Linked DNA regions of Homo sapiens. The main gene of each other region encodes a partner of the protein of the gene in region 2 in a complex. Each region holds a gene or a part of one and is shown on either strand. Other genes may lie near its edges. The genes, in order: VAMP2 and STX8.

Region 1 (4,195 bases), 1.1 Mb from region 2:
ATACAAGAACTAATGGGGACTAACTCCTCAGTAAAAAAAGAAACACAGGTTGAGAGAAGAGTGATGGAACAAAAAGAAATGGAAAGGGATAGCAGTATGTAATGATACGCTAATTAACATGCTGGACGCTCCCAAAGACCTTGGGATTCTTAGGACCAAGTGGGGCCAGTCTCAGAGCCTCCCAATGGATACAAAGAAGATGTACCTAAGGAAGCCTGGACAGGTGCTGTTGTTTTTTTTTTTTTTTTTTTTTTTTTGAGGGCGGGGCAGAGGGAGCATGACGGGGAGAGTGAGGAGGAAAGAGGAAAGGAAGGCCAGGGTGGGAGGAAGGATCAGCTAAATCTGAGGGAAGAAGAAGGAAAGGAGAGGGACTATTGCATAGCAGATGCAAATGAAGGGACTTGGGGCTAGTCAGGAAGAAAGGGAAAGGGAAGGAAGGCAAGAGAGAGGGGTGAAGGGAACCTCAGGAAGGGGTGTTAAGGACAACCGGAAAAATCATCTAGTAATAAAACTACAAACAGACCAAATATATATAATATTATATATGTATAAATAACAGCTGGCTATTTACAGGGGGACACACACACGGACACACACACACACGGATCCAGGGGAGTGGGGGCTGAAAGATATGGCTGAGAGGTGGAGGAACGGCTGAGGGTTGGGGGAGAGGCCCTTCTCTAGGCAGGGCAGACTCCTCGGGGATTTAAGTGCTGAAGTAAACTGTGGAGAGAGGGGAAGAAGATGAGGAAGAGGGAGAGGGGAGAGAAAGAGAGAGAACAAGAAAGCAGTGTGTCAGGCCTGGCCCTGCTCCAATCCTCCCCACTCCCCAGCTGGCTGACACCCTCTCTTGGACTCAGTTTTTCCATCTACAAAGCAAGGGGCTAGACAGGTAGGTTCTGAGGTCCCTTCCGCTCCATGGTATGGCCTTGAAGCCACAGACCCTAATCCTCTGAGCCTCTGAGACCGCAAGCTCTCAAATAATGGGGTGGTTGGCTTCCTGGTCATGTCTCAAGCCCCTGGTCCTTTCCTTTCTCCCACTCCTCAATTCCAGGGTTCTCAGACTGGGCTCTTAGGCCTAAAGGGTCCTCAATGGATACACCAGCTTTCCTATTTCCAAATGTTAACAAGACTGCCAAGAACTAGGCAAAATGCAGGCTAAATAACATCAAAGTTTTTGGCTCTAGATGAATCAGAATTGCCATTAGCAGCTATATGTGTTTTTGGCTGAAGAGTAAAAACTAGATTAATGACCTTCAAAACCTAGAATCCACTGGGGAAACCTCTCCAGGGAAAGGGCCCCGGCCATTCTCACCCTACTCACCTATGATGATGATGAGGATGATGGCGCAAATCACTCCCAAGATGATCATCATCTGGGGGTGAGAGGCGAGGATCAGTAAGACAAACTATGATACCCCATTCACCCACCTGTCCTCCTTCCTGTCCCCACCCTTACCTTGAGGTTTTTCCACCAGTATTTGCGCTTGAGCTTGGCTGCGCTTGTTTCAAACTGGGAGGCCCCCGCCTGGAGTGCATCTGCACGGTCGTCCAGCTCCGACAGCTTCTGGTCTCGCTCCAGGACCTTGTCCACGTTCACCCTCATGATGTCCACCACCTGGGAGAAGGGCCCACGAGGCAGGGGGGTGTGCCAAGGCCCACCTCAGTGAGGGCAATCCTCAAACATGTGCCCACCGTGCCACACATGGAACATGCACCCTGATACTGCCAGGTTAACATGCCAAGGACACACAGAACATGCCTAGCACACCTGGGGACATGCAAGGAGCACACATCAGGGGCATGCTGGTGACATCTCAGATGTCATAGCAACACCCTCCCTCTATGGAACCTCAGGCGCTCTGTCCATCACCAGAGCACACCTGCCCAGGCTGGCACACCCCAGGCTAGCAAAGCTGATTAACACCCCCAGCGCCCTTCCAAGTGCGTGCTGACAGGGAGACAGGGATGGGGCATGGTATCTTTGTCCGCAAACCCACAGGCGTGAACTGTCATCACTCCCAAACCAACATGGGCCCCTACACCTATACGCCAACCCCCAGGGTCCCTCCTACTGCTTTTGACTCCCCCCACACTCACCTCATCCACCTGGGCCTGGGTCTGCTGCAGTCTCCTGTTACTGGTGAGGTTTGGAGGGGGTGCAGGGGGACCACCCTCCCCAGCCGGGGCAGCAGGGGGGGCCGTGGCAGCGGTAGCAGACCTGAGGAGCAGGGACGGATTAAGACCCAGGGCCTGCAGCCTCCCGGCCCCGCAGCCAGGGCTCCGCCCATCCACCTGTCCATCCTCGTCCCTCCAGTCCTCCTTTTCGGGAGGAAGGCCACCCGATGTAAGCCCTGGTCTCGGTCCAGCCCTGCCGCCGATGAGCTGCGTGACCTTGAGCGAGGCCCCCCCGGCCTCAGTTTCCCCGCCTGTCAACTGAGGGCGACCTCACAGATGCGATCCGGGTCGACCCGAAAAGACAGGCGGCCGCGGTGACAGGGGCGGGGAGGGGCAGGAGGACACTGGGTCCGCTCCTTCCCGCGGCCATCGCCCGAGCCGGCCAGCCCGGGACGCGGGGCTCCTCGGCCGCCCGCGCGCAGTCACCGGCTTGGGCCTGGCCCCGGGGCGCGGGGAACGCAGGAGAGACCCCGGGCACTCCCGACGGCCGGTTGCCAAGGGCGGCGGCCGGCGCAGGGAAGCGCGGTGAGGGTGGCGGGCGGCCGACTCACATGGCGGGGGCAGCGGGTGGAGGACTTGGCAGCGGCAGTGATGGCGGCGGCGGCTCGCGCTGGCTCCGACTGGCGCTGGCTGCCCGGGACGGAAAGATGGCGGCCGCGCGTCACCCGCATCCGGGCACTGCGGGCGGGGGCGGGGCGCCGCGGGAGACGCGTCGCGAGCGGGGCCGCGGGGGCGGGGCGCTGCGGGGCGCTGCGGGGCGGGGGTCGTGCCGGGCAGGACCACGGGCCCCGCGCCACCATGCCCCGGCAGCTCCCTCGGCACTCGCGGGACCCCAAGGCGGGCTGCTGCGGCTTCCCCAAACCCACCGCCACCCCACCCTGTCTGACCACAGCCCCCCCAAACCGCCTGCCGCCTGCCCCTTAGAGCACAACGCAGCCTGGCCCTACACCTAACCCCCAGACCACTCCCTCAATCGTGAACCCAGTAAACCAGCCTGCACCCCACACAGCCCAAGGTCTTGCCCCGCGCCCAGGTCCCAGCACCTAGCGACCCGCCTTCAGCACTTGGAATGGGCTGGAGTTGGGAAATCAGAGAGGGCCAGTGCAGGTGCTGGGGCAGTATCGAGAGCGGGGACCTTACTGCTAGGGTGGAGAGGAGTGGGGGAGATTGGTCCCAACCCATCACCGCTGGTGGATGTCTCAGAGGAAGCCTGGGGTCCCTGGCCACTGGGTAGGAGGGTAGGAAGAAAAGATGAGGCAGGCTCTTCCCGCCCAAACAAGTCCAGGGGGCGGAGGACGGGGGAGTGTCTACAGGGTGTGGGGAGGGGGCTGCCCCGCCTCACGATTAAGGTTCAGACTAGGGGTACTTAACCGCTGGAGCAGGCCCGACTGAGGTGGGGTGAGCTGAGGACCCCGAGGAGGAGGGCACAAGGCTGCCGGGGGTGATGGGGGCAGGGGCTGCTTCACGTGGTGGCTGCTGACTGGCCAAGACCTAGCTTTGCCCCAGGCTTAGGTCAGCGACCCGACTGCAGGAAAGGGCTCAGGCTTTGGTCCCAGGCACAGGGCCTGGGCCAAAAAAAAAAAAAAAGCCTTTTTTCTTTTTCTCTCATTTTTTTTTCTTTAGTAGTAGGCACAGTGGGCACAGGTTACAAGGTGCTGCTTTACATGCGTATTCGCCTCGCAGGTGTGACCTTGGACCGTTGCCCTCCTCTCTCTGGACCCCAAATACATTGCATATGTAGGTACTAAATCCATATTTGTTAAATGGCTTGATGTGGATAACATAGGAGATTATCCCTGGCTGGTCTCCATTAGGCCCTCTAAGCACACCCAGCAGCTGTATACACTCCCACCCAGCTTGTCAGAGAAGATGGGACCAGGGGAGCTGTCGCTCTGGTGGAGTGCAGGGGGTCAAAGCAAGCCTCAAGGGTGCAGGAGGCATTTTAGGCGAGGCCCTTTGGCCCTGGGGTGGGGGTGCTTACTACATCCCTGGAAGGTGCAGGGAGGCTGATGGCCTT
Region 2 (4,013 bases):
ACAACCACGATAGCCACAAGCAGCAGTAAAATCACCATGATCATCCCTGGAAAAAAGCAGCAGAAAATACTACTTTTAATGATTCCTACCAGAAAAGCATCACACATTCTGAGTGTCTGCAGAGACTCAGAGGGATGTAGTTCCCTCTGAGCCTTCAGTTTGTACGAAGTGGAGAGAGGTGGTCGGTGGCCTGGGGCGCCGCTGCTGCTACACAGCTCTGGCTTTGCAGGATGCTGAGTGCAGAAGGCAGGGGCCTGGGTGTGGCCAGGCCCCCCCAGGCAGCACTCAAGCCAGGAGGGGGTGAGGCCCCTAACTCTAGCATCTGTGTACACCTTGGACCACAAGGGAGGGCGCAAGCTGCTGACGACAGCCACCCTCACTACCCAATCAGATTATGCATTGATGACGCATTGATAAAGCAAAGGGCTTAGGAGAGCATTCTAGAACCCATTTCTCCATTCTCCACATGGCTTCACTTTGTGTTCTTGAGTCCAAGATCCTTAAGTCACCCATTTGTAAAAATATTCACCGATAGAGGTGCTTGTTTTGATATATACTTTTTCTGCTAGTATTTGCTAGTTTCATTTCCTGACGTTTTTGGCTGGAGAGCACAGGCCCTCCTAGCCAGCCCATGCTGGGTGCCACTCTGCCTTCCAGCCCCGCCCTGCCTCCTCTGGGTCGTGTGTCTGCACTGACCATTGCCTGTTCCTTCACCTGATGCTGATGAAGTGGGCCCCACAGAATGCAGCCCTCACTTAGTGCAATGAGCTCACTGTCTCCCATGTTCGCTTGCCCAGTATTTAACGAGTGTTTACCACGTGCCAGGTACCAGCGGCGACAAGGTATAGCATAACAGAGAAGGGGCGCCCTACTACAAAGTAAGCACTCAAGAAAGGTTTGCTCACTGAAGAGTCCTTGAGCTGCCAAGGCCCCACGAGAGAGGTGGGTAGCAGAGGAGGAGAGGTCCATGAAAATGCTTCAGAAAGTAACAGGGAGAGCCACGTGTGCAGGGTCACATGGTTGCACAGCCATCAGGACTGCTGAACGCCACGGTAGTCTGTGGCATATGTTCGTGAGCAAAGAAAATGCTAAATTTCAATTAGACATTTGTGAACATAAGAGTCCAATTTGCTTTCCGGTCCAAGTTCACGGGCTTCCCGAATCCCCTCCACAGATCCTCAGGGTTCAATGTGGATCAGGCCATACCAATCTTAAGCTCAACCCATGTGGGCACTGCACCATGGTTTTGAATATTGAAGAGACTTAAAAATGTATGGCAAGTGGCTGGGTGCAGTGGCTCACACCTGTAATCCCAGCACTTTGGGAGGCCAAGGCGGGCGGATCATCTGAGGTCAGGAGTTCGAGACCAGCCTGACCAACATGGTGAAACCCCATCTCTATTAAAAATATATTTAAAAAAATAGGCCGGGCACGGTGCCTCATGCCTGTAATCCCAGCACTTTGGGAGGCCGAGGCGGGCAGATCATCTGAGGTCAGGAGTTCGAGACCAGCCTGGCTAACATGGTGAAACCCCGTCTCTACTAAAAATATATTTAAAAAATTGGCCGGGCGCAGTGGCTCACGCCTGTAATCCCAGCACTTTGGGAGGCCGAGGCGGGCGGACCATGAGGTCAGGAGATCGAGACCATCCTGGCTAACATGGTGAAACCCCATCTCTACTAAAAGTACAAAAAATTAGCCTGGCGTGGTGGCAGGCGCCTGTAGTCCCACCTACTTGGGAGGCTGAGGCAGGAGAATGGCGTGAACCCGGGAGGCGGAGCTTGCAGTGAGCCGAGATTGCGCCACTGCACTCCAAACTGGGCAACAGAGCAAGACTCTGTCTCAAAAAAAAAAAAAATATTAGCCAGGTGTGGTGGTGGGTGCCTGTAATCCCAGCTACTTGGGAGGCTAAGGCAAGAGAATCGTTTGAACACGGGAGGCGGAGGTTGCAGTGAGCTGAGATCACACCACTGCAATACAGCCTGTGCAACAACAGTGAAACTCTGTCTCAAAAAAAAAAAAAAAAGAAAACGAAAATAAAAAAAAAAACTAGGGCAAGCTTCTTTGTCATCTACCTGTGACTGTGGTTGCATTTTTCTGATATGGGCTCTTTCTCTGATGATCCAATCTTTTGAGAAACGCTTCTCTTGGGGCCCCAAGGTTTCTCCCCCGTCTTCCTGTAGATGAAAACCTCATCCTAGTCTACCTCAAGGCTCTGCCAACTTTGGTTCATGGGCCAAATCTAGCTGTGCTCTGTTTTTGTGCAACCCATGAGCTAACAATGGTTTTTATATTTGTAGAGGGTTGTCAAAAAGGTAAAAGGAGGAGATGTGACACCGTCTGTGGTCTGCACAGCCTAAACCGTTTACGACCTGGCCTCTTCCAGAGGCTTGCTAGCTCCTGCTCTCCATCATCATGATGATGACCCACCTGCAGCATCAGTTCGCCCACTTAGGCGCTGGCCTTCAATGCGCTCTTCATTTCTTTCATCTAGGGATTTCCTTTCTTCCTTGTAAATTCAGCCCTGCATTAACATTTGTGGGTGGGTGGAGTTACACTATTTTACCTCACATTTCAAGATGCTTGCAGCAAGAAGGCAGGGGTAGGGGTGTGTGTGTGTGTGTGTGTGTGTGTGTGTGTGTGTGAATATCTTAGTCCATCTGCAGTGAGAAGGTAGGGATACGGGTGTGTGTGTGTATGCGTATGTGTGTGTATGTGAGAATATCTTAGTCCATCTTCTTGCCAGAAGCAGAAGAACAAATCTTTTCACTGATTTCTGCTCCAGAAACATCTTCAGGTTGACCAAAAGCTCCCCTGGGCAGGAGCTTCACTAGTTCTTGGTTATTCTGGTGCCTGTGTGGTGATCAGCTGAAGACTTGGTCCTGGCTGGGTGAAGGTTTATGTTGCGCAACATGAGGAGAAGATAACGAGAATGAGGAGGCAGGCACAGGCTGGGATGGGGCGAAGGGGCAATCCCTGGCACTCCAGGGCCTGGGCTCACCCTAAGATGACAGGGAGGGGCTGGCAGCTGAGGAGATGAGGGAGAGGATGAGAGGTGTTTTAGGAAGAGGTACTGCTCCTGAAGCTCCAGTGGGATCACAGTTGGGAGGACACTTGGGCCCAGAAGCTCCATGCATCAAGGCAGGCTCCACACTGAGGCTCTGATGGCCTGGAGCAGAGGCCAGTATGAATGACCGTGAATTGTCAAATCAGGGTGATTATGAGAAGAGCGGAGCAAGTGACAAGAACAAAGAAATCAAGAACAACAACTGATTGGGAAGAAGAAAACACACATCTGGTTTTGGTTCATACACCCGGAGCGTGAGGTCCAAGGGAAGAGGCCTCAAGGCATGCGCAGTCACTGCCATCCCTGATTTGGCTCCCTGCAGTGAGGGACTGCTTTCCCCGGTCCCTGCTCCACGATGGAACTACAGCAAGCTTTTCAGAATGTAAAGGAGATCAGGTCACCTCCTTGCTTAAATCCTCCAGTGGCTGAAACTGAGATCCAAACTTTACAGTGGCCAAGGGGGTCTTGCACAGTCTGACCCAGCAACCCTGCAGCCGCACTCTGCGCGCTGTGTTTGAGCCATCCTGGCTGTCTCCGGTGCCCCCAACAGGCTGATGCAGAAGGTAGGGGCCCTGCCTCCCAGCTTCGACACGCGCTATCCTTTCCATCCGGGAGCTCCCCACTCGTGGTCTAGTTAATCCCTCAAACTCAGTGGCATTTTCCCAAAGAACTCTTTGTCATCCTCCAGTTACCTGTGCCCTCTTTGCCCCCCTAAGTTTCCATGGTAACTCTTATTAAATCTTTTTTTTTTTTGAGATGGAGTCTCGCGCCCAGGCTAGAGTGCGGTGACGTGATCTTGGCTCACTGCAGCCTCCGCCTCCTGGGTTCAAGCAATTCTCCTGCTTTAGCCTCCCAAGTAGCGGGGATTACAGGTGCCCACCACTATGCCCGGCTAATTTTTGTATTTTTAGTAGAGACAGGGTTTCACCATGTTGGCCAGGCTGGT

What was found.
Region 1: STX8 (region 2) and VAMP2 share a complex: the UniProt entries of both Homo sapiens proteins name them as parts of the SNARE core complex.

The regions. Positions count from the first base shown.
Region 1 is NC_000017.11:8,160,149-8,164,343, forward strand, and holds the start of VAMP2 (vesicle-associated membrane protein 2), read right to left. Parts: upstream 2,801-4,195; 5' UTR 2,732-2,800; coding exon 2,730-2,731; intron 2,729-2,729; exon of another isoform or gene 2,304-2,728; coding exon of another isoform or gene 2,296-2,303; intron 2,222-2,295; coding exon 2,101-2,221; intron 1,619-2,100; coding exon 1,460-1,618; intron 1,377-1,459; coding exon 1,325-1,376; intron 724-1,324; coding exon 707-723; 3' UTR 1-706. UniProt on the Homo sapiens protein: Involved in the targeting and/or fusion of transport vesicles to their target membrane. Major SNARE protein of synaptic vesicles which mediates fusion of synaptic vesicles to release neurotransmitters.
Region 2 is NC_000017.11:9,250,600-9,254,612, forward strand, and holds part of STX8 (syntaxin-8), read right to left. Parts: intron 47-4,013; coding exon 1-46. UniProt on the Homo sapiens protein: Vesicle trafficking protein that functions in the early secretory pathway, possibly by mediating retrograde transport from cis-Golgi membranes to the ER.